5 separate regions of the Homo sapiens genome follow, and regions 1, 2, 3 and 4 are each linked to region 5. The links come from fine-mapping of genetic effects on gene expression. A gene starts in region 5. Each other region holds a variant in brackets. All regions are shown on one strand. Distances are between the middles of the regions. Region 1 overlaps DENND4C (DENN domain containing 4C). Region 2 has its middle 26 kb from the start of DENND4C. Region 3 has its middle 49 kb from the start of DENND4C. Region 4 overlaps DENND4C (DENN domain containing 4C). Region 5 holds the start of DENND4C (DENN domain containing 4C).

Region 1 (5,105 bases), 61 kb after region 5:
ACCTTTTATATTTTGGCAATCAGAAAGGTGTCAAACTGCGTCTTTACTTCTTATATTTCCTTCTCTTATCTCTTTGTGTCTGATTTGAAACCACATGTTACTTGCCATGAAAGGTGGACTTGCTTCCTTTCTCCTTTGTTGCAAAGAATCAGCTATATGGAGGAGAGGAGGGCCTGAGAAACTTTTCTGCCATGAAGTGTTTGAGAAATCTATCGCCACATTCTTACTGCACATTAAAGTGTCAAGGGCTGTAAAGATTTAAGTGTCACGTCTTCATTCCACTGGTATGGTGGGATAAAAACTGAAAATACAGGTATGCTCCAGTTGTAAATAGAAAAGATACTGGAATACTTCTTTGTGAAAAGAAGCAGTGCTAATTACTATTTGATTATGCACAGTTCTTGAAATAAAGTTTTACTTCAGGGAAGTCAGGCAAATTCATATCCAAAAAATCGTGATTTTCATAAAAACATTCATACTAATGAACCAAACCATTTAATTTATAATATAAAAATAATGGCAACGACTAACGTATAAAATTCAGTATCATTTTAAAATCTGATACTGTAGGCTGGGCATGGTGGCTCACGCCTGTAATTCCAGCACTTTGGGAGAGTGAGGCGGGCAGATCGCTTGAGGCCAGGAGTTTGAGACCAGCCTGGCCAACATGGTGAAACCCCGTCTCTACTAAAAATACAAAAATTAGCCAGGCGTGGTGGCACGCATCTGTAGTCCCAGCTACTTGGGAGGCTGAGGCACGAGAATCGCTTGAACCCAGGAGGCGGAGGTTGCAGTGAGCCGAGATCACACCACTGCACTCCAGCCTGGGTGACAAAGCAAGATCCTGTCTCAAAAAAAAAAAAAAAAAGTGATACTGTTAATACTGCTGTAATATGTTGATTATGTGTGATGTCCTTTTTTTGTTGTTGTTGTTGTTTTTGGTGGAGAAAAGATATCACTTAAAAAACTTATAGAAAGAAACTGTACCAAAGTATTCAGTTATTTGATATGAGACACTTATTTTAGAATAGAGAGTTTTAGATACTGAATTTGGGCTCAAAATTCTACTACTGATTTTGAAGTTTTTCACTTAGAGATGGTCTATATATTGATGACCTTAGAGGCTAATGAACAGATGCCATGTAGCTAATTTATTCTGTGGGTCTTCATTGTGGTTCTCAAAGTGTCACTTGCTCCTACTTTCTGGGTCTCACATACTCTGTACTTAGTCACAGTGTTTCTGTCTCATTTACTTTTCATGTTGCATGCCTTTTACACTGCTTCCCTCTTAAGATGAGTTTAGGGGCTGTGATAATTTCTGTTGCCTCAGCATTATTTCATAACACTTGTCTCTTCCCTGAATTTTTCACAGAAGACTAACTGAAATAGTTGGTAAATTTTTCTGTATGTTTCTTACCATTTTCCACAAGGTGTTGGCATGTGTAGAAGAAAATACATTAAGATTGGTGATCAAGATTGGTTGAATGGAATCTCAACTAGTATATTAATACATTTTAAATGTTACAATGAACTGTAAATTCATGGGTAAAATATCAGGGGTAAACTTATTTTAGTTTCTGTTATAGCAAGGGGGAAATCAATTTTAAAATACCACACAAGTATTGCCATGAAATTCGGCATTAAAATATTCCATTAATACCTATCATATGCAATTTATGGAAAAGTAACTATTTAAAAAATTTATTGTTGTCTCATTCTTCAAAAGGTTTAATTTTTAGATATCCAGAAGAGGACTATGAGTCATTTCCACTCTCAGAATCAGATGTACCTCTTTTCTGCCTTCCTATGGGAGCTACTATTGAGTGCTGGGATCCTGAAACCAAATATCCACTTCCAGTTTTTTCAACTTTTGTCTTGACAGGTTCTTCAGCCAAAAAGGTATGTTTTTGTCTCATTGATTAAACACATTTTGTCCATGTTTTTATTTCATAAAAAGGTTAATACAAGTTTTATTTGAATGTTAGGATTATTTGGACATGATACATTTTGGTTTAAATTTACACTGTCATCCCCAAGGTGAGAAATCAACATGAAAATTGCTATCAGGATATTGATACCTCTGGAACTTCTACAGAAGCAAAGATAAAGTCTCTCTGGATAGACA[C/A]CTTCAAAACCCAGGTGTCAAGATGAGATGATTATGACAGATCAAGGACATAGGTACCATAGAAAGAATCGACAGACACAATTAAAAAGCAGGGTTAGACCCTCAAGACATTGAAATGACAGAATGACAATATAAAGGATGTTATAAATTAAAATATCATTGAGATGACCTAAGAACTAATGGAGGGGCTCAAAATATCAAGGAAGGAACAGGATATTTTGAAAAATGAATAGATTGGGAAAAGAATCAAGTGTTTAGAAATGAAAAATATGGTCCTTAAAATTAAAAATTCAGTGAATGGGTTAAACAGCAGAGATAAGGCCAGGTGCGGTGGCTCACGCCTGCAATTCCAGCACTTTGGGAGGCTGAGACAGGTGGATCACTTCAGGCCAGGAGTTCAAGGCCAGCCTGGGCAACATAGCACAACTCCGTCTCTACTGAAAATACAAAAAATTAGCCAGGCTTGGTGGTACACGCCTGTAATCCTGGCTACTCGGGAGGGTGAGGCATGAGAATTGCTTGAACCCGGGAGACAGAGGTTGCAATGAGCTGAGACTGCACCATTGCACTCCAGCCTAGGCTACAGAGCGATACTCTTTCTAAAAAAAAAAAAAAAAAAATAGCAGAGATAAGACATACATGAAGGGATAATTAATGAAGTGGAAGATAGGTTACCTTAAATGTGGTACATACAAATGTAAAACATAAAAGGAGTTTTAAAATGTAGCAGATAGAACTAGAAGGTCTAATAGATATTTAATGAGTTACTGAAGGAGAGACTAGAAAAGGACAAGGCTACATCCTAAGAGCTAATGGTTGAGAGTTTTCCAAGGTTGATGAAAAAATTGAGTCTTCAGGTTAAAGATGTACTCTGAATCTGCAGCAGAGAAAAATAAACAAATAAGTAAATAAATAAATAATCCCACCTCTTTTTTTTTTGAGACGGAATGTCACTCTTGTTGCCCAGGCTGGAGTGCAGTGGTGCGATCTCGGCTCACTGCAACCTCCACCTACCAGGTTCAAGTGATTCTCCTGCCTCAGCCTCTTAAGCAGTGGGATTACAGGTGTGCGTCACCACGCCCAGCTAATTTTGTATTTTTTTTTTTTAGTAGAGACAGGATTTCACCCTGTTGGTCAGGCTGGTCTCAAACTCCTGACCTAAAGTGATCCACCTGCCTCAGCCTCCCAAAGTCCTGGATTATACAGGTATGAGGCACCATGCCTGGCCTATCCCGCCTCTTATTATATCATGGTGCTATCATGGAACACCGGAGACAAAACAACTAGAGAGAAAAGACATTTATTGTCTTATGTAAAACATATATTGTATATAACAGTAATAATGACATAAACTGATTTATAAAGAAGAGAAGGCAAAAATAAACAATATTCAGTATAAAAAGCTGATAGCAGTAGAAATTTCAAAATTGAAAACTTTCTTTTCTTTTTTTTTTTTTTTTGAGACGAAACCTCACTCTTATCCCCCAGGCTGGAGTGCAATGGCACAATCTGGGCTCACTGCAACCTCCGCCTCCCGGGTTCAAGCGATTCTCCTGCCTTGGCTCCCCGAGTAGCTGGGATTACAGGCACCTGCCACCACGCCCGGCTAATTTTTGTATTTTTAGTTGAGATGGGGTTTCACCATGTTGGCCAGGCTGGTCTCGAACTCCTGACCTCAGGTGATCCACCTGCCTCAGCCTCCCAAAATGCTGGGATTACAGGTGTCAGCCAATGCGCCCAGCAAAAATTGAAAACTTTCTAAGGAAATTTAATAGGCGATTTTATTGAAAAAATATATAATCTGAACTGACTCATGCAGATGAAACAAAATACATCTGTGACCTCATTCTACAGGTACAGGCTACACCTTTATAACTACTGTGATAAAGATAATATATGTAAAGTATCCAGCATAGTGCCTGGAACATAGAAAATACTGAGTGAAGGTCAATATTATATTAACTTGATTGCCCACTACTAACTTGTTAGCTTAATAATCATTTACAATTTCTCCTGCTGAAAGTAGTAAATATAACTGAAAATTTTAAGATCTTCAAACATTAGTTACCTAATATGCTTTGGCAGTAGAGAACAATAAAGTCTCATTTGAGATGTGGGTACTAGGTGATCTGCTTGGCTTTTTCATTGTTTAGGGGATATCAACATGTAAGCATTGAGGTGTGTAAAATTTAGGTATTTGTCATTGCTTGTTAAAAACTTTGAGATCACTTTGAAATAATTATATCTGGGAATATTGTGTGTATAAAGGCAAGGGTTATAATGAAAAAACAGTTGGCAAGATTTATAAAATACAGAAGTAAGGATTGATTGTTGGGAGAAGGGGATGGGTTAAAAACTTTGAGATCACTTTGAAATAATTGTATCTGGGAATGTGTGTGTAAAGGCAAGGGTTCCTGTGATATATATAATGACTAAACAGTTGGCAAGATTTATAAAACACAGAGGTAAGGATTGATTGCTGGGAGAAGGGGATGGGTATAGTGATAGAATTTCTTTGCAGTGTTTTAAGGAATGGGCAGATCAGAGGAAGTACCAAGGCTAAACAAAATACATAAAAGCACAAAATTATGAACTAGTCTATATGCCTGGTAGCTCTGTATTGTTGAAAAGCAACAGCAGGTACTGTGAGGAATTGAGAGCATCATGCCACTTACACGGACTGTGGCATTTTACCTGTAATGGGGAACTTTTGAAGGATGAGATATTACCTCTGAAGGACTGTTTCTTCAGTGTATTTTTCACTAAAATACTTTCTCTTCTGACTTGAGACCAGTTAGGGCTTCAGTAGTTGCTTTGATATGTGGTAAGTGGAAGTGGAATTGAACATGACTTCGAAGTTTCTACCTTGGGAATTGTGTAGCATGACTGAGTAAGATTAGGAATATTGGATGAAGTGTTTAGATGATGAGCTCACTTTTGAAAATATTGGTTTGAGATGCCTGTATGACATCCAGGTGGA
Region 2 (5,105 bases), 26 kb before region 5:
GGCTAAGCTACAACTCCTTGAAAGCCCTTTTCTACGGTCGAAGTCTACAATTCTATGATCCTGAAAAAGCTAAAATAAAAGCTAGTAGCCACTGGCTTCTAAAATGTTTACCAATCACCCCAGAGCTTAAGGAACAAAGATCAAAACAAGCCTTGGGCTATAATCACCTTATCCAAACCTACAAAATAAACAGCAGACTAAAAATAGAGAGGGGTAAGTCTTATTTCAAAGTGAAATGATCTGAACAAAGGGCAGCTGGTTTTCACGATCTTTCTTATCTCTTAGATAAAGTTTGTTAATGGGCCATAAATACACAAAGGGTCTGGTTGCCAAGTATCCCTGCAAAAGGGAGGAGAGGCCATATATCACTTCCTGGGGGATGGGAGGGAGTAGCATCTCAAGGAGAAGTAGCACAAAGGCCCCTCCTGAGATAGGAAACAGGCCCTGGGTCAGGCAGCTGTGGGTCCGGCAAACACCCTCAGATCTCAGAACAAGAAACCCGTTGAAGGCGGGGCACAATGGCTCCTGCCTGTAATCCCAGCACTTTGGGAGCCACAGTGAGGCTTGAAGCCAGGAGCTAGAGACCAGCCTAGGCAACATAGGGAGACCCGCCCCCCTGCATCTGTCTGTCCAAACAATTTAAAAATTAGCTGGGCACAGCTGGGCACGGTGGCTCAGGCCTGTAACCCCAGCACTTTGGGAGGCCGAGGCGGGTAGGATCACGTGAGGTCAGGAGTTCGAGACTGGCCTGGCCAACATGGTGAAACTCCATCTCTACTAAAAATACAAAAAATTAGCCGGGCGTGGTGGCAGGCGCCTTTAATCCCAGCTACTTGGGAGGCTGAGGCAGAGAGAATCGCTTGAACCCAGGAGGTGGAGGTTGCATTGAGCTGAGATTGCACCATTGTACTCCAGCCTGGGCAAAAAGAGTGAAGCTCCTTCTCAAAAACAAAACAAAACAAAAATTAGCTAGGCATAGTGGCATGCACCTCTAGTCCCAGCTCCTCGGGAGGCTGAGGTGGGAGGATGGTTTGATCCTGGGAGGTTGAGACTGCAGTGAGCTGTGATCACACCACTGCACTCCAGCCTGACGACAGAGCAAGACCCTGTCTCAAAAACAAACAAAATACATATGTGTGTGTGCGCATGCGGGCGTGTGTGTGTGTGTGTAAAACCTGTTAAAGAGCTGGGGGCTGGGTGGAACAGAGATTGTGCTGGCCAAGGTGGGGAGAAGCTATATACTATATGGAGGACAGGACAGCCCTCACACAGAAACACCTGAAGGAGCCTCAGCTGATATTCTCCTGATGACATAGTCTAACTCCTTGCACTCAAAATGGGATCAGTGGACCATCAGCACAGGCAGCATCTGTGAGTTTATTAGAAATGCAAAATCTGGCCAGGCGTGGTGGCTAATGTCTGTAATTCCAGCACTTTGGAAGGCCAAGGTGGGTGGATCACCTGAGGTCAAGAGTTCAAGACCAGCCTTGCCAACATCACGAAACCCCATCTCTACTCAAAATACAAAAAACATTAGCCGGGCATGGTGGCGCACACCTGTAATCCCAGCTACTCAGGAGGCTGAGGCAGGATAATTGCTTGAACCCAGGAGACGGAGGTTGCAGTGAGCCAAGATGGTGCCACTGCACTCCAGCCTGGGTGACAGAGTGAGACTACTTCTCAAAAAAAGAAAGAGGCCAGGCGTGGTGGCTCACGCCTGTAACCCCAGCACTTTGAGAGGCCAAGGTGGGCGGATCACGAGGTCAGGAGATCGAGACCATCCTGGCTAACATGGTGAAACCCCGTCTCTACTAAAAATACAAAAAATTAGCCAGGCACGGTGGCAGGCGCCTGCAGTCCCAGCTACGCAGGAGGCTGAGGCAGGAGAATGGTGTGAACCCGGGAGGCAGAGCTTGCAGTGAGCCGAGATTGCGCCACTGCACTCCAGCCTGGGTGCAAGAGCGAGACTCCATCAAAAAAAGAAAGAAAGAAAGAGAAAGAAAGAAAGAAAGAGAGAAAGAAAGAAAAGAAACGCAAAATCTCAGATCCAACACACACCTACTGATCACAGTCTGCATTTTACCAAGATTCCTGGTGATTGCCTGTGCATTAAAGCTTGGGTGTAGCTGGAAAAGTACCTTCACAAAGACATCAACCATGCTGGTTTTACCTAGTGATTAGGGAAAACCCTGAGCACTCAATCCATTGTATCTATGAGTTCCAGCATTTTTTTTTAAAGAGGGTCTCCCTCTGTTGCTCAGACAACAGTGCAGTGGTGCAGTGCAGTGCAGTGGTGCAATCTCCACTTACTGCAATCTCCACCTCCAGGGCTCAAGCGATCCTTCACTTCAGTCTCCAGAGTAGCTGGCACCACAAGTGCCATGCCACCATGCCCGCCTAATTTCTGTATATTTTTGGTAGAGATGGAGTCTCACCATGTTGCTCAGGCTGGTCTCCAAGTCCTGGCTTCAAGAGATTTTCCTGCCTTGGCCTCCCACAGTGCTGGAATTACAGGCCTGAGCCACTGCGCCTAGCTGTTAATTATATCTTTATTTTATTTTATTTATTAATATTATTTATTTTTTAGTAGATACAGGGTTTTACCATGTTGCCCAGGCTGGTCTTCAAGGCTGGTCTTGAACTCCCGGACTCAAGTGATCGGCCCACCTTGGCCTCCCAAAGTGCTGAGATTACAGGAGTGAGCCACCGTGCCCAGCCTCCTTATTTTTTTTATTTTTATTTTTTCGTGAGACAGAGTCTGGCTCTGCACCCAGGCTGGAGTGCAGTGGCATGATCTTGGCTCACTGCAACCTCCGCCTCCTAGGCTCAAGTGATCCTACTACCTTAGCTTCCTGAATGGCTGGGACTACAGGTACAGGCCACCA[T/C]GCCTGGCTAATTTTTGTAGTTTTAGTAGAGATGGAGTTTTGCCATGTTGCCTGGGCTGGTCTCGAATTCCTGAGCCCAAGCCATCCACCCTCCTGGGCTTCCCAAATAGCTGGGATTATAGAAGTGAGCCACTGGGCCCAGCCCTGGCCCTACCTGTATCTTAAAAAAAAAAAAAAAAAAAAAAAAAAAAGGTCCAGGCATGGTTACTCACACCTGTAATCCCAACACTTTGGGAGGGGAGGTAAGAGGATCACTTCAGGCCCTGAGTTCAAGACCAGCCCAAAGGCTGGGCGCGGTGGCTCACGCCCATAATCCCAGCACTTTGGGAGGCCGAGGCAGGTGGATCATGAGGTCAGGAGATCGAGGCCATCCTGGCCAACATGGTGAAACCCCGTCTCTACTAAAATACAAAAAAAAAATTAGCCGGGCATGGTGGCATGCACCTTTAATCCCAGCTACTTGGGAGGCTGAGGCAGGGGAATCGCTTGAACCCAGGAGGTGGAGACTGCAGTGAGCCGAGATCACGCCATTGCACTCCAGCCTGGCAACAGAGCAAGACTCCATCTCAAAAAAAAAAAAAAAAACAATAATAATAATAATAATAATAAAAGACCATCCCAGAAAACAAAGTGAGGTCCTGTTTCTACAAAAAAATTTTTAAAAAATCAGCTGATTATGGTGGCACATGCCTGTAGTCCCAGCTACTTGGGAGGCTGAGGTAAGAGGATTGCTTGAGCGAGCAGTTGGAGGCTGCAGTGAGCTATGATTGCACCACTGCACTCTAGCGTAGGCAACAGAGTGAGATCCTTCTGGAAAAAAAGAAAAACAACTGCACATTATTGGCATGGCGGTATGCTAGGACCACACTAGGCTGTAAACTCCGTGAGGGCAGGAACCATGCCTGGTTTGTTCAACACAATATCCCCAGCATGAATTTGGCATGCACCTAACATATGGCTCAGGAAATATCTGAAATGAAATATCTGAATATTTGAATGAAAGACAAGTTGAAGTGAATGAAAGGCAAGTTGATTCTCCATGAACATATCATTTTCAGGTATGTTCTCCACGGACATACCTGAAAATGGAATAGACATTAGCTGCACTTAGATGAAACTACTCTGCTTTAATCCCTGGATTTTCATGAAATCAAGGATGAATTTACCTGACATTGAAAAGGACCATGAATCTTGTGTGAGTTGATATCGTATGATGTTTATCATCATAACTTAATTGTTTTACATTGAATTTTAATATTTATTTTTTAATTTTAATTTAATTTTATTTATTTTGAGATGGAGTCTCGCTCTGTCGCCCAGGCTGGAGTGCAGTGGCTCGATCTCGGCTCACTGCAACCTCCGCCTCCTGGGTTCACGCCATTCTCCTGCCTCAGCCTCCCGAGTAGCTGGGACTACAGGCGCCTGCCACCACACCTGGCTAATTTTTTATATTTTTAGTAGAGATGTGGTTTCACCATATTAGCCAGGATGGTCTCGATCTCCTGACCTTGTGATCTGCCCGCCTTGGCCTCCCAAAATGCTGGGATTACAGGCGTAGGCCACCGCGCCTGGCCTTTTAATTTTTATTTTTTTGAGACAGTTTCAGAAAAGAAGTTTCACTCTGTCACCCAGGCTGGAGTGCAGTGGGGCAATCTCAGCTCACTCCAACCTCTGCCTCCCGGGTTCAAGTGATTCTTCTGCCTTAACCTCCCAAGTAGTTGGGATTACAGGCATGCACCAAAAAACCCAGCTAATTTTTGTATTTTAGTAGAGACATGGTTTCACGATGTTGGCCAGGTATGGTTATTATTATTTTTTTTTAGGGACAGATTATCACTATGCTGCCCAGGCTGGCCTTGAACTCCTGGGCTCAAGCAATCCTCCTGCCTTAGTCTTGCAAAGTTCTTAGGGTTACAGGTGTTAGCCACTATGCCCAGCCTAGTTCAATAATTTCAACTTTACCATAATATGAGGAAAACTTGAGCGTAATATTGGTCTGTCTTATCTGTTCCAGTTTCTCAAATACTTTTTATTTTTACAGAAAGGGTCTTGCTCTGTCACCTAAGCTGGAGTGCAGTGGCATGATCATAGCTCACTGTGGCCTCAAACTCCTGAGCTCAAGCCACACTCTTGCCTCAGCCTGCAAAGAGCTGGGATTACAAGTGTGAGCCACTGTGCCCGGCATAGTTTCTGAAATGCTTTTAGAAATGCTACTTATAG
Region 3 (5,105 bases), 49 kb before region 5:
TGGTTTTGAGACAGGGTCTCACTCTGTCACCCAGGCGGGAGTGCAGTGGTGCGATCACGGCTCACTGCAGCCTCGACCTCCCAGGCTCAAGCATCCTTTCGCCTCAGCCTCTGAGTAGTTAGGACTAGAGGCCCTCGCCACAACACTCAGCTATTTAAAAACAATCTTTAGTAGAGATGGGGTCTCACCATATTGCCCAGGAAAGTCCTGAGCCCCTGAGCTCAAGCAATCTGCCTGCCTCCAACTTCCCAAAGTGCTGGGATTACCGGCATTAGCCACTGCGCCCGTTCTCCTGTAAAATGCTTTCTAAAAGCAGGAGGCTGAGGCAGGAGAATCACTTAAACATGGGAGGCAGAGGTTGCAATGAGCTGAGATTGCACCATTGCACTCCAACCTGGGCAACAAAAGTGAAACTCTGTCTCAAAAAATAAATAAATAGGCCAGGCATGGTGGCTCATGCCTGTAATCCCAGCACTTTGGGAGGCCAAGGCGGGTGGATCACCTGAGGTCAGGAGTTCAAGACCAGCCTGGCCAACATGGTGAAACCCTGTCTCTACTAAAAATACAAAAAATTAGCCCGGCTGTGGCGGGCGCCTGTAATCCCAGCTACTCAGGAGGCTGAGGCAGGAGAATCGCTTGAACCAGGGAGGCAGAGGTTGTAGTGAACTGAGATCATGCCATTGCACTCCAGCCTTGGCAACAAGAGCAAAACTCCACCTCAACAAATAAATAAATAAAAATAAAAATAAAAAATAAAAGAATCAATTTGGCTGGGCACTGCGGCTCATGTCTTTAATCCCAGTACTTTGAGAGGCCGAGATGGCGGATCACCTGAGGTCAGGAGTTCGAGACCAGTCTGGCCATCATGGTGAAACCCTGACACTACAAAAAATACAAAAAAAAAAAAAAAAATTAGCCAGGCATGGTGGTGGGCACCTGTAGTCCCAGCTACTTGGGAGGCTGAGGCAGGAGAATCGCTTGAACCTGGGAGGTGGAGGTTGCAGTGAGCCGAGATTGTGCCAAAGTACTCCAGCCTGGGTGACAGAGTGTGACTCTGTCTCAAACAAAACAAAACAAAAAAGTGAGGCTGGCAAGGTGGACTGATAAAGTCATAAGGCCTCAAACACTAGCCGACGGAAATTAATAAGTAGGCAGTGAAGTCCCACTGAAGATTTTGAGGAAAGCAGTGACAGAATGACATACTAAAAGCAATATGTTAGGAAAAACCATTAAGGAGAAATTTCCAAAACTTGACAAGCCACCATGATTTTTTTTTTTTTTTTTAAACAAGAGTCTTGCTGTTGCCCAAGCTAGCATGCAATGGCACAATCTCAGCTCACTGCAATCTCTGCCTCCCAGGTTCAAGTGATTCTCATGCCTCAGCCTCCCAAATAGTTAGGATTACAGGTGTGTGCCACCACACCCAGCTAATTTTTTTTTTTTTAAACAAAGTTTTGCTCTTCTTACCCAGGCTGAAGTACAGTGGTGGGGTCTCGGCTCACTGCAACTTCTGCCTCCTGTGTTCAAGCAATTCTCCTGCTTCAGCTTCCTGAGTAGCTGGGATTACAGGTGTGTGCCACCATGCCTGGCTAATTTTTTATATTTTTAGTACAGACAGGGTTTCACCATGTTGGCTAGGCTGCTCTCGAACTCCTCACCTCAGGTGATCCACCTGCCTTGGCCTCCCAAAGTGCTGGGATTGATTACAGGCATGAACCGCAATGCCCAGCCAAAGTTTATATTTTTAATGGAATCATATGAAAGTAATGTTCCTATCAAATGGTTCATTTATTTGTAGAGATGTTAGCCAGTATTTTTTTTTTTTTTTTTGAGATGGAGTCTCGCTCTGTCGCTCAGGCTGGAGTGTAGTGGCGCCATCTCGACTCACTGCATCCTCTGCCTCCTGGGTTCCAGCAATTCTCCTGCCTCAGCTTCCTGAGTAGCTGGGATTATAGGCAGGCGCCACCTTGCCTGGCTAATTTTTTTTTTTTTAGCAGAGACTAGAAAAAATGTTTGGCCATATTGGCCAGGCTGGTCTCAAACTCCTGACCTCAGGTGATTCACCCATCTCAGCCTCCCAAAGTACTGGGATTACAGATGTCAGCCACAGCACCCAGCCCCAGTATTTCTTTGAAATACAAAATATACACTATCCTTTTCTTTTTTGCTGCTCTAGGGGAAAATGTACATACTATCTTAAGGCAAACACAGAATATACTAAAACTAAATGCTGGCTAGTTATAAGATAGGAATTTGGCAGGACTTGTTTCACAAGACGTAGGTCACAAAGACCCTGCTTATAAAACAGGGTGCAGTAAAGAACCCAGCCAAGGGCTGGGTGTGGTGGCTCATGCCTGTAATCTCAGCACTTGAGAAGCCAAGGTGTGAGGATCGCTTGAGGC[T/C]AGGAGTTCAAGAACAGCCTGGCAACATAAAAACAAAACAAAACAAAAAAACAAAACAGTTAGCCAGCTCCCTCCCAAAATCAAAATCAAGATGGCAAAGAAAGTGACCTCTGGAGGACGTGCGCAGTGGTTCACGCCTGTAATCCTAGCACTTTGGGAGGCCGAGGTGGGTGGATCACGAGGTCAGGAGTTCGAGACCAGCCTGACCAACATGGTAAAACCCCGTCTCTACTAATAATACGAAAATTAGCTGGGCCTGGTGGCGGGCACCTGTATTCCCAGCTACTCAGAAGGCTGAGGCAGGAGAATCGCTTGAACCTGAGAGGCAGAGGTTGCAAGTGAGCTGAGATCTCGCCACTGCACTCCAGCCTGGGTGACAGAACAAGACTGTCTCAAAAAAAAAAAAAAAAAAAAAAAAACAGAACGTGACCTCTGGTCATTCTCATTGCTCATTATATGCTAATTCTAATGCATTATCAGCGCCCTGAAAGACACTCCCACTGGCACCATGAAAGTTTACAAATGTTATGGCAACGTCCCTAAGTTACCCTATAGAGTAGGAGATGGGGAGGACCCTCAGTTCTGGGGAACTCCCCACCCCATTCCAAGAAAACATGAATAATCCACCCCCTTTTCAGCATGTAATCAAGAAATAACCATAACTATAGTTAGTCCAGCAGTCCGTGCTTCTACTCTGTCTATGGGGTAGCCACTGTTTCATTCCTTTACTTTTTAATAAACTGGCTTTCACTTTATTCGGTCCACTTGCTCCTGTTTTTTTTTTTTTTTTTGAGACAGAGTCTTGCTCTGTTGTCCAGGCTAGAGTGCAGTGGCATGATCTCCGCTCACTGCAACCTCCACCTCCCTGGTTCAAGCAATTCCCCTACCTCAGCCTCCCGAGTAGCTGGGATTACAGGTGCATGCCACCACACCCAGTTAATTTTTTTGTATTTTTAGTAGAGATGGGGTTTCACCATGTTGGCCAGACTGTTCTCGAACTCCTGACCTGAGGCAATCCACCTGCCTCAGCCTCCCAAAGTGTTGGGATTACAGGCATTAGCCACCATGGCCTCCTTAATTCTTTTCTGCCAAAAGTCAAGAACCCTTATGGCCTCCTGGGCTGATCCCCAGTTTGGGGAGTTGCCCTGTGACAGTTAGAGAACCCAGATGTCTTTATATTGTAAAATTACTTTAGGTCTTTGTGCCGACAGTTTGAAGACAGCTGTCAAAGGGGACTTCTAGCTCTGGGCTCCAGTACATTAAATAAGAAATATCCTGATGTACCCCCAGATCAACCTGCATTAGAATCACTGTAGGTATTTTTACAAATATAGGTTCTGAGGCCCCACCGCATACCCACTTAATTAGAATGGGGAGAAGGGGAGTCTGTGGTTTTACCAAGCTTTGTGAATGATTTTTAAGCATTCTGCTGCATTGCTTTCTAAACCCAGGCCTGTTTCCCACACTACTGTAATCAAGAGGGAACACTGAAGTTTCCTCAGTTCCTTCCTGTTTTTTCCTGTTTCCTTCTGCAGTGACCAACACTATCAGAAATGGCATTTTGGCAGGGACAGGGAGTACAGGAATGGAAACAGGAAAGGCATAAACAAGACTCCTCCTCTGCCCCAGGACTCTCTCCTGTGGGTCACATTACCAGTGAAGGCTTGTGAACTCTGATTTAGCTAAGTTAATTTTGTGCAAAAAAATAAATTTTGGCCCGGTGCGGTGGCTCACACCTGTAATCCCAGCACTTTGGGAGGCCGAGGCAGGTGGATCATGAGGTTAGTTCAAGACCAGCCTGTCCAAGATGGTGAAACCCTGTCTCTACTAAAAATACACGCAAAAAATTAGCCAGCGTGGTGGTGGGCGCCTGTAACCCCAGCTACTCGGGAGGCTGAGGCAGGAAAATTGCTTGAACCCAGGAGCTGGAGGTTGCAGTAAGCCGAGATCACGCCACTGCACTCCAGCCTGGGCCACAGAGAGGGACTCCATCTCAAAAAAAAAAAAAAAAAAAGAATTCTGGGGAGTTGTAGTGCTTGTTAAAAACAGATTCCGGGCCGGGCGCAGTGGCTCACGCCTGTAATCCCACCACTTTGGGAGGCCGAGGTGGGTGGATCACAAGGTCAGGAGTTCAAGGCCAGCCTGACCAAGATGGTGAAACCCCATGTCTACTAAAAATACAAAAATTAGCTGGGTGTGGTGGCGGGTGCCAGTAATCCCAGCTATTCGGGAGGCTGAGGCAGATAATTGCTTGAACCCTGGAGGCGGAGGTTGCCAGTAAGCCAAGATTGCACCATTGCACTCCAGCCTGGGCAATAGAGGGAGACTTCATCTCAAAAAAAAAAAACACAGATTACAAGGTCCTTTAGTAGAGATGATGATACCTTAATCTAGATGATTCAAATGTAGGTAGCTCTCAGAACACACTTTGGAGAACAATGACTTAAATCCAGTGAAGAAAATCTCCAAGAAGCTGTGACAATATGTGGTCTCTTGAAATCTAGAGATTGGTGCTACATGTGATGGCTCACCCCTGTAATCCTAGCATTATGGGAGGCCAAGGCGGGTGGATCACTTGAGATCAGGAGTTGAGACCAGCCTGGCCAATATGGTGAAACCCCATCTCTACCAAAAATACAAAAATTAGCCAGGTGTGATGGCGCGTGCCTGTAATCCCAGCTACTTGGGAGGCTGAGGCAGGAG
Region 4 (5,105 bases), 28 kb after region 5:
AAAGGAGAAAAAGACAAATCCATAATTTTAGTCAGAGATTTTAATGCCATTCTCGTACTAGTTGATAGCACAAGTGGACAGAAAACCATCAAGGATGTAGTAGACTTGTTACAACACTATTTACTTGACTTGATTTATAGAGCCCTCTGTGCAACAACAGAGAGACATTCTGCTAAAGTGCACATGGAATATTCATCAAGACAGACCACATTCAGGCTGAGCATGGTGTCTTAACTCCTGTAATCCCAGCACTTTGGGAGGCCAGGGTGGGAGGATTGCTTGAGGCCAGGAGTTCAAGACCAGGCTGGGCAACATAGCAAGACCCTGTCTCTGCAAAAAAATAAATGAAAAAAAAAAAAAGACCAGATTCTTAGCCATAAAACAAGTCTTGATAACTATGAAAGAATTTGGGTTATACAAAGTACATTCTCTGACCATAAGGCATTTAAGTTAGAAATCAGTAACAGAAAGATTCTTGGAAAATTCCCAAGTACTGAATTTGGAAACTGAAAAACATACTTTATTTTTAAAAAAATTTTTCTTTTTTTTCTTTTCTGTTTTTTTTTTTGTTTTTTTTTTTTTTTTTGAGATGGAGTTTCGCTCTTGTTGCCCAGGCTGGAGTGCAAGGGCGCAATCTCTGCTCACTGCTCACTGCCATCTCCACCTCCTGAGTTCAAGCGATTCTCCTGTCGCAGCCTCCCGAGTAGCTGGGATTACAGGCATGCGCCACCACACCCGGCTAATTTTGTACTTTTAGAAGAGAGAGGTTTCTCTGTGTTGGTTAGGCTGGTCACGAGCTCCCAACCTCAGGTGATCTGCCCGCCTCAGCCTTCCAAAGTGCTGGGATTACAGGCGAGAGCCACCACGCCTGGCACTTGCTTTTCTTTAAATTTTATTTTTTTACTCTTTAAAATTAAATCTGTGTCTTTTTTATGTTATTTTTTATTTTAATTTGTAGTTTTTTAGTAAGAAACCTCATCCGAGAAAAAATACTTTAAAATTATCTATTGGGCAAAGAAAATATTTTTTAAAAAAGGAAATAAAACAAGGCCGGGTGCAGTGGCTCACGCCTGAAATCCCAGCACTTTGGGAGGCCGAGGCAGGTGGATCACGAGGTCTGGAGATCGAGACCATCCTGGCTAACATGGTGAAACCCTGTTGCTACTAAAAATACAAAAAATTAGCCGGGCGTGGTGGCAGGCGCCTGCAGTCCCAGCTACTCAGGAGGCTGAGGCAGGAGAATGGTGTGAACCTGGGAGGCGGAGGTTGCAGTGAGCCGAGATCACGCCACTGTACTCCAGCCTGGGCGACAGAGTGAGACTCCGTCTCAAAAAAAAAAAAGGAAATATATTTTGATCCAGGTGAGGTTTCAGAAAACAGAGTGAAGAAAAGGAAAAAAAGGAAAAAAGAATTAAAGTTTAAAAAAGAAAACGGCTATAAAAAAATATTCTGAACAGAATAAAAAGAAGGCCGGGTGCGGTGGCTTGCACCTGTAATCCCAGCTACTCAGGAGGCTGAGGTGTGAGAATCGCTTAAACCCAGGAGGCGGAGGTTGCAGTGATCCAAGATCACATCACTACACTCCAGCCTAGGTGACAGAGTGACACTCTGTCTCAAAAAAAAAAAAAAAGAAAACACAACATATCTAGATTTGTGGGGTACCACTAAAACATTGCTTAGGAAATGATTTGTAGCACTAAATAACTAAATTAGAAAAGATCTCAAATCATTGACTTCAGCTTCCACCTTAAAAAACTTGAAAAAGAAGAGCAAATTAAACTCTACATAAGCAGAGAAAAGAAAATAATAAAGATCAAAGTAAAATTCAAAGAAATATGAAACAGAAAAGCAAGAGAAAAATCAATGAAACCAAATGTGATTTTTAAAATGGTTAAACTTCTAACCAGGCTGATCAGACATAAAAGAGAAGATACAAATTACTGATATCAGAATTAGAGAGGTGACATCACTACATATTCTAAAGACACTAAATGGATAGTAATAGAATATTATGAACAACTTTATGCCAATAAATTTGACAACTTAGATGGAATGACAAATTCCTTGAAAGACACAAACTACAAAAGTTTATTCAGGAAGAAATAGGGGCTGGGCAAGGTGGCTCATTCCTGTAATCCCAGCACTTTGGGAGGGGGAGAATCGCTTGAGCCCAGGAGTTTTAGACCAGCCTGGGAAACATGGTGAGACCTCATCTCCAGAAAAATAAATTAACTGGATGTGGTGGTTCATGTCCACGGTACCAGCTACTTGAGATGCTGAGGTGGGAGGAACACTTGAGCCTGGGAGGTTGAGACTGCAGTGAGCTGTCATTGTGTCACTGCACTCCAGCCTGGGCAACAGAGTAAGACCCTGTCTCAAAAAATCAATCAATCAATCTATCTATCTATCAATCAAGAAGAAATAGGCAAGCCAAATAGCCTCGT[A/G]TGTGTTAAAGGAATTGAAATCATAGTTTAAAAATCTACCCGCATAAAGATCCAGACTCATGTAATTTCACAGGCAAATTCTATCAGACGTTTAAGGAAGAAATAACACCATTTCTCTACAACCTTTTCCAGAAAATTGAAGAGGAGGAAATTTTTCCCAACTTGTTCTGTCATGTTAGCATTATCTTGATACCAGAACCAAAGATATTACAGGAAAACTATATGCCAGTATTCCTCGTTAACATATATAAAATTTCACACAAAATTGTAGCAAATAGAATTCAAGAACATATAAAAAGGATGACAGATCATGACCCAAGTGGGGTTTATGCCAGAAATTCAGGATTGATCTATAACTTGAAAATCAATGTAATTTACCATATTAACAAATAAAAGAAAAGCCATAATGATCTCAGTAGATGCAGAAAAAGTGCTTGATAAATTCTAATATCCATTCTATTTTCTTTAAATTTTAAGTTTTTTTTTTTAAAGACAGATTCTTGCTCTGTTTCCAGGTTGGAGTGCAGTGGCGTGATCTCGGCTCACTGCAGCCTCTGCCTTCTGGGTTCAGGAGATTCTCCTGCCTCAGCCTCCAGAGTAGCTGGGACTACAGGTGCACGCCACCAGGCCCAGCTAATTTTTGTATTTTTATTAGAGACGGGGTTTCACCATGTTGGCCAGGCTGGTCTTGAACTCCTGACCTCAGGTGATTTGCCTGCCTCGGCCTCCCAAAGTGCTGGGATTACAGGTGTGAGCCACCCTGCCTGGCCTAAATTTTAAGTTTTTATGGGTACATAGTAGGTGTATATATTTATGGGATACATGAGATATTTTGATACAGGCATACAGTGTGTGTTCACATCAGGGTAAATGGAGTATCCATCACTTCAAGTGTTTATCATTTCTTTGTTCGAACATTCCAATGGTACTTTTAGTTATTTTAAAATATACAATAAATTATTGTTGACTGTAGTCATCCTGTTGTGCTATCAAATACTAGATCTTATTCATTCTAACCCTATTTTTGTATGCATTAACCGTCTCCATTCCGCCCCCGCCACCTCCCCACTGCCCTTTGCAGCGTCTGATAGCTATTATTCTATTTTCTGTTTCCATTAGTTTAATTGTTTTAAGTTGTAGCTCCCACAAATGAGTAAGTGAAGTGAAAACGTGAAGTTTGTGTTTCTGTGCCTGGCTTACTTTACTTAATATAATGACCTCCAGTTCTATCTATGTTGTTCTAAATGACACAATCTTGCTCTTTTTTATGGCTGAATAGTACTCCGTTGGGTATATATACCATATTTTCTTTTCTTTTTTCTTTTTTTTTTTTTTTTGAGATGGAGTTTTGCTCTTGTTGCCCAGGCTGGAGTGCAGTGGCGCGATCTTGGCTCACTGCAGCCTCCGCCTCCCAGGTTCAAGCGATTTCTCCTGCCTTAGCCTCCCGAGTAGCTGGGATTACAGGCATGTCCCACCACTCCTGGCTAATTTTGTATTTTTAGTAGAGACGGAGTTTCTCCATGTTGGTCAGGCTGGTCTCAAACTCCTGACCTCAGGTGATCCGCCCGCCTCGGCCTCCCACAATGCTGGGATTACAGGCGTCAGCCACCACGCCTGGCTCGAATGCCACATTTTCTTTATCCATTTGTCTGTTGTTGAATAACTTAGGGTTGCTAAGTTGAAGCAACTTAGGTTCCTTCCAAATCTTGGCTATTGTGAATAGTGCTGCAATAAACATGGGAGTGTCAGTATTTCTTTGATGTACTGATTTCCTTTCTTTTTGGTATATATCTATCATAGGGGATTGCTGGATTGTATGATAGTTCTGTTTCTAATTTTTTGAGGAACCTCTATACTATTCTCCATAGTTACCATACTAGTTTGTGTTCCCACTAACAGTGTATGAGGGTTCCCTTTTCTTCATATCCTTGCCAGCATTTGTTATTGCCTGTCTTTTGGACCTAAGCCATTTTAACTGGTGTGAGATGATATCTCATTTTAGTTTTGATCAAAGAAATTTTGATGCATTTCTCTGATGACCAGTGATGTAGAGCACCTTTTCGTATACCTGTTTGACATTCATATGTCTTCTTTTGAGAAAAACCTATTCAGATATTTTGCCTGTTTTTAAAACTGGATTATTAGATTTTTTTCCTGTAGAGTTGTTTGATGTCCTTATATGTTCTGGTTATGTTATGTTATGTTATGTTATGTTATGTTATGTTATTTTTGAGATGGAATCTTGCTGTGTCACCCAGGCTGGAATGGGGTGGCATGATCTCGGCTTACTGCAACCTCCACCTCCTGGGTTCAAGCAGTTCTCCCACCTCAGCCTCCCGAGTAGCTGGATCTACAGGTGTGTGCCATCACACCCGGCTAATTTTTGTATTTTTAGTAGAGACGGGGTTTCATTATGTTGGCCAGGCTGGTCTTGAACTCCTCACCTAGGTGATCCACCCGCCTTGGTCTCCCAAAGTGCTGTAATTACAGGTGTAAGCAACCATGCTCGGCCTATGTTCTGGTTATTAATACCTTATCAAATGGATAGTTTGCAAATATTTTCTCCCATCTGTAGGTTGTCTCTTCACTTTGTTGATTGTTTCCTTTGCTGTGCAGAAGCATTTTAACTTGATGTGATCCTATTTACCTATTTTTGCTTTG
Region 5 (5,087 bases):
TTCTGGGCCCCTAAGCATGCAGTTGGGAAGGTTGCTGAATCAAGAACTTCCAGATCTGAGAACAGTTAACTCACATGAAAAATTAGTCCCAAAACATTCAAGTTCATTCTATGAAATTTTTGGTGGAAAATGGCAGTGAAAAATCTATGGTAAATCTATAGGACGATTAAGATAGTGAGAAAAATTAAAGAAAATCCTAAGCCTTCCATTGCAAAGTGAGAAAAATCAAGTCAAGTGGAAGAGAGATACTGGCCTCATCCATTTTTCATTTCTGTGGGTGCCATAAAAAAAGAGAGAGAGAGAGAAAAAAAAAAACTCTGAATCCCTGAGAGCTAATTAAATGAATGTACCCATTAAGAAATCTTGTCTTGGTTGGGCACGGTGCCTCATATCTGTAATCCCAGAGTTTTGGGAGGCTGAGGTAATAGGATTGCTTGAGTTCAGGTGTTCAAGACTAGCCTGGGCAATATAGTGAGACTTTATATCTTCCCCTAACCCCCCCAAAAAATTAGTGGGGTGTGGGTGGGTGGTTGGCACAGGCCTACCATCTCAGCTATTCGGGAGGCTGAGGTGGCAGGAAGTTAAGGCTGCAGTGAACCCTGTTTGTGCCACTGCACTCCAGCCTGGGTGACAGAGGGGGGGATCCTGTGTCCAAAAAAAAGGAGGGGGCGAAGAAATCTTGTCTTTCCTTTTCTAGTTGGGATGAGGAAAAATTAAAAAATATATATGTAAATAAAGAAAGAAATCTCGTTTATATTGCTTTAAAACTGCTAATTAATTTAGACTTTGGGAAAGAAGGAAAAGAAGCCCACAAGCTAAATTTTGTTTCACTGTTTCTTTTCTTTTTTTTCTTTTTTTTTTTTTTTCTGAGGCAGAGTTTTGCTCTTGTTGCCCAGGCTGGAGTGCAATGGCGCAATCTCGGCTCTCTGCAACCTCCGCCTCCCAGGTTCAAGCCATTCTCCTGCCTTAGCCTCCCGAGTAGCTGGGATTACAGGCATGCACCACCACGCCCGGCTAATTTTGTATTTTTAGTAGAGACAGTGTTTCTCCATGTTGGTCAGGCTGGTCTGGAACTCTCGACCTCAGGTGATCCGCCCGCCTCAGCCTCCCAAAGTGCTGGGATTACAGACGTGAACCACCGCGTCCGGCCCACAAGCTAAATTTTGAAGTATTAGATCCTTTCTTAAACTTTTGCTCTTCGGATTGTCAATGTCAAAGATAGTTTCCAGGGGGACCAAATTGGCCCCAAACTGTTATTAAATAAGCCTTAACTTTTATTGCTGCGCATTTCTTCTGAAATCAATTCTGACTGCTTACGTGGTTAGAAAAATAGTTTCTGCTATTGAATATAAAACTCAAATTATCCATGGCTATGCAATAAACTTCAGAAATAAATGGACAGCAGTGCATTTATGACCCAGGTATAATCTCACATTTTTATGCAAAAATACAGATTAAATAAGGAGAGTGTAATTTTCAGGAAAATGATTATTTATGTGGATACTCACCAGATATGCAGAAATCTTACCAGTTCTGATTTTGACCTGCCATGGAATCTGAAGTCATTCGCCTTTTTTTCCCCCCAGAGGTAAAAAAGTTATCTCTACTTCAAACCATTTCCTTCTTCCTAAATAACTAGTAATTGCTTTTTCATTTACTATGATAACTCAAAAACGTTGTTCAAAAATATCCTGCAAAATTTGCATTATAGAGAAACGACTCTGCAGGCGTCTGTGTCGATAATGAGGCTACACTTAGGAGGCGTGAGGGTACTGACTATGCAAATGAGCGATTTCTCCATTAGGAATTCCCATCCCCAAATCTGGGCCGAAGGAGAGACACCGAGCGCGGCCAGGGACTCACATGGTGCACTGGAGCCAAGGGGTTTCGGGAAGGGCCAGCGCGCGGGTCTCTCTAGAGCCCTCTACTCATGCGTGGGAATTCCAGATTCCTTCCCTGGGAAGGAATCTTCACGTATCTCCCGGCACTGTCCTCAGTGACCTTCAGCCACTCGGCATCACTTTCCCTGTCTTTGAAAACTCCGAGAGAAGCAGCCGCCACCTGCCTCAGGCCAAGGCAATAAACCCACATCACACCGCCAGTCTGAGCCCTGCAGGAAGGGGTGCACAGCGGCCTCCAGAGCGCTTTCTCCCCAGCTCTGTTTCTGCAGGCTCGGCCGCGCGAACGCTGAGGAGGGGATCGGAGGCCCGCAAGGCTCAGACCCCGCGCCCCGCGGGGGTCGCACAGGGGTCGGGCGGGGGAGGGGAGCGGTGGCTGCAGGGCCTCGGCCCTCCCCGGGGGAGGGGCCTGAGCACCGCACCGCCCCCCTCCTCCCTGCGTCTTCTCCCTCCCACCCCCCGCCCTTTTCCACCCGCCCCCGCAGGAGGAAAGGGAGAGGGAGGGGGAAAAGAAAGTGCTGTTTTGTGGAAAGGGGCGGAAGGCGGGGGAGAAAAAGGGAACAGAAACATGGCGGTCAGGTCTTGGGACGGCTGCGCCGCGGGCAGCTCCTAGGCGACGCGCCGCCCGCACTGTCCGACGGCTCACAGCGCGGAGGCACCCGCGCGGGCCAGCGCTCCGGCCATCGCCCCTGGCTGTAGGCGGCGCCCCTCGGAGACCCTGCCCGCGAGGCGGCGCAGGCGCAGACCGGACTGAGGCGGCGGCGGCCGCTGGAGCTAGTCCCCCGCCCTGCCCTGCCGAGCGCGCCCAGTCCGCGAATCCGGTGCTTTCTTGCCCCAGGAAGAAGCCGTGTCGGGGCTGCGCTGACAGAGGAGCAGGCAGCAGGTGAGGCTGCGGCGCGGGGCCTTTGGCGGAGGAAGCCTGCGCCGTGCCCTCGCGGGGCCTGCGCTGCAAGGCTGGGAGGGCGCGGGACAGGTAGAGCCCGGAGGGCTGAGTTCCGAGTGGCTGGCCCGCGGGGGGTCGCCGAGGAGGCGGAGAGTGGCCGCGGCTGGCGTTCGTGGCCTAGTTTCTCCGCGGTTTCCGGGGGCGGGGAGTCCCCGGATCCTGCGGGATGCAGTCGGGGAAAGGCTGCCCCTGAAGAGCCTCCCCGCGTCGCCCGCCGGGCCCATGAGAATCGTTTGCGTACAAGCGCGAGGGGTCTGGGCCCGGGGGACCGCCGGGGCGACGGCCGCTTTGGTGGGGGCCGGGGTGCGGAGGGAGCAGGATCGGGGCTTCCCAGAGGGGGTCGAGGCTGAGAGAGCGGAGAGCTAGAGCCAGGGGTGGCGGGCAGTCTCGAGAGGAGTCGGGGGACTGAGAAGTGTCGGGGACAACGGGGAGGAGGGGGACCTGGGCAGGTGTCTCTGGTGAATTGAAGACATTTCCTTCTCTGTCTTACGGTGGCCGATCCTCAGGGCTTCTTTGTCGGGGATGACTTTCTAGGAGGGCAGTATCCTTTTAACTCTGGAGTGACTAAACACAAAACCAAGGAATGAAGTCCTAAGGCTGACTCCTGTAAAGAGCTGTAACTTTTTCTGTTTTAAGAATGCTGTCACGTCTTTTTTTTTTTCCTCCCCTTTTCTGCTTGATAGACCTTTTCCCTCTCGAAGACCGTCTTTTATCTGCACTAATAAGGAATTACCCAGTTTTTAAATAGTACCGCCTCCTTCTCCCCTTATGTATGTTTGTCACACGGGAAAATTTAGGGTAGTTACCGCGGGTACTTGTGCAAATTTGAGGGAAAGTGTCATTTCCAGTAGTGAACCCTCAGCTGTCTCTTTGTGCCTCCGAGATACTGTCAAGCGTTGTAGCCTGAGAAATTGACCCACTGAGCCTGCTTAATTGTGTGCAAACCCGTGTTGAGGCGTTCTTCCTAGGCCCTAATTTACGTAGGAATAGGTTTTCCCTTCCGGTCTGTGTATAATGAGAGGGGAGAACGTTAGTGCTAAGGCGCTAAGTTCTGGATAAATACTTGATTTGATGTGATAGTGTGTATTACTCTATCAGAAATGCAGAGCGTTGTATGATTTTTCTGTGTACACGCGATAAGAGCAATATTAGTTGCAAAAGGAAGTTTTCATCTTTGAACATTAAAGGTATCCTTTATTCTTGATCACTATAGCATGCAAAAAAGAAACTATATTTTCTGTCCTGTTCTTTGTATTACTGTTAAAGAGTTGGTAAACTGCCGTCTTGCTGTGAGACTGGGAAGTCGGCAATGAAGTTAGATTTGTATTCATGAACATGATCTGCCTGTCATATAGGCTTGCTTTGACTTGTTTTTTTTTTCAGTAGTGGCAAAGGGTTTTCTGCCACTCAATCCACACTTTCCTCCGCATTGGTATCTCCGTTGACCATTTTGCAAAATAGTTTATTGAGATTAGGGGTCTGATCTTTTGTATAACCTGTTGTAGTGAACTGATCATATGCGACTTGACTTTGGCCAATAGTACCTCGTGCAGTGTACAGTACTACTATTTAGACTTACTGATTTGGGTAATAGAAAAGCTATGATGTTAGAAATGTTGTCGTTGTATATTGGAGAAATTTTGAAGTTGCATATTGGAGTAATTTAGTCCTGTATGCTTTGTAAATGAGTGCATTCTATTGTCGAGAGTAAATACAGTATTTTGTAGTATAAACTTAAGCTTTTAGCTGAAGAAATTGGCAGCATAGTTGGAGTGTGGAGACTATTCTTAAAACGCAAATGTTTTAAATTACAAGGAACTGTAGTGGTGTGTAGGCTGTAACAATTCCTGGTGCCAAATTTGGGAGATTATTTGGTTGAGCTACTTTCTATAAAGAAACATATTAAGTATCTGCAATAAAAGTGGATTTGTAGCTATACACAAGGGATTTTACATTATAAATAATAACTCAATAAGGCACCTTTCTTTGCTCTTTGTGTATCTGCCAGTTAAGACCAAAACATCTCATATTTTCACTGGAGCTTCCTGCCAAAACAAATACTGGTTTTGCATTGGCTTTGCTGCTCAGTTTGAAAGCTAGGGGAATCTCTTAGAGCCTACTCTGGTTCTGGAGGCTGCCTGATTAAAAAAAAAAAAAAGAAAAATTGAAAGCTAGGTTTCAGTCATATGCTTGCACCTTAAGTACAGGTTGTAAAGTAAAAAAGAAAGTTGCTGAGTCAGTGGCAG

Evidence for each region. PIP is the estimated chance that this variant, and not a neighbour inherited with it, causes the effect.
Region 1: its variant is fine-mapped to the expression of DENND4C in nasal epithelium (TOPMed, PIP 0.92).
Region 2: its variant is fine-mapped to the expression of DENND4C in thyroid (GTEx, PIP above 0.99).
Region 3: its variant is fine-mapped to the expression of DENND4C in esophagus mucosa (GTEx, PIP 0.93).
Region 4: its variant is fine-mapped to the expression of DENND4C in whole blood (INTERVAL, PIP 0.93).

The regions. Positions count from the first base shown.
Region 1 is chr9:19,288,978-19,294,082 of GRCh38, forward strand. It overlaps DENND4C (DENN domain containing 4C), which reads left to right. Exons shown (of 33, transcript NM_001330640.2): 5 at 1,727-1,899. Among named protein-coding and RNA genes, the nearest start is that of DENND4C, 61 kb to the left of the region's middle. The variant C/A (reference allele first, on the strand shown) is at 2,126.
Region 2 is chr9:19,202,144-19,207,248 of GRCh38, forward strand. No RefSeq gene overlaps it. Among named protein-coding and RNA genes, the nearest start is that of DENND4C, 26 kb to the right of the region's middle. RefSeq lists an enhancer at 303-821. The variant T/C (reference allele first, on the strand shown) is at 2,886.
Region 3 is chr9:19,178,837-19,183,941 of GRCh38, forward strand. No RefSeq gene overlaps it. Among named protein-coding and RNA genes, the nearest start is that of DENND4C, 49 kb to the right of the region's middle. The variant T/C (reference allele first, on the strand shown) is at 2,403.
Region 4 is chr9:19,255,741-19,260,845 of GRCh38, forward strand. The region is part of intron 1 of DENND4C (DENN domain containing 4C); the gene reads left to right. Among named protein-coding and RNA genes, the nearest start is that of DENND4C, 28 kb to the left of the region's middle. The variant A/G (reference allele first, on the strand shown) is at 2,445.
Region 5 is chr9:19,228,053-19,233,139 of GRCh38, forward strand. DENND4C (DENN domain containing 4C) reads left to right here and starts at 2,641. Exons shown (of 33, transcript NM_001330640.2): 1 at 2,641-2,781. RefSeq lists enhancers at 1,799-2,048, 2,433-2,939, 2,940-3,445 and silencers at 2,079-2,378, 2,459-2,828, 3,049-3,188.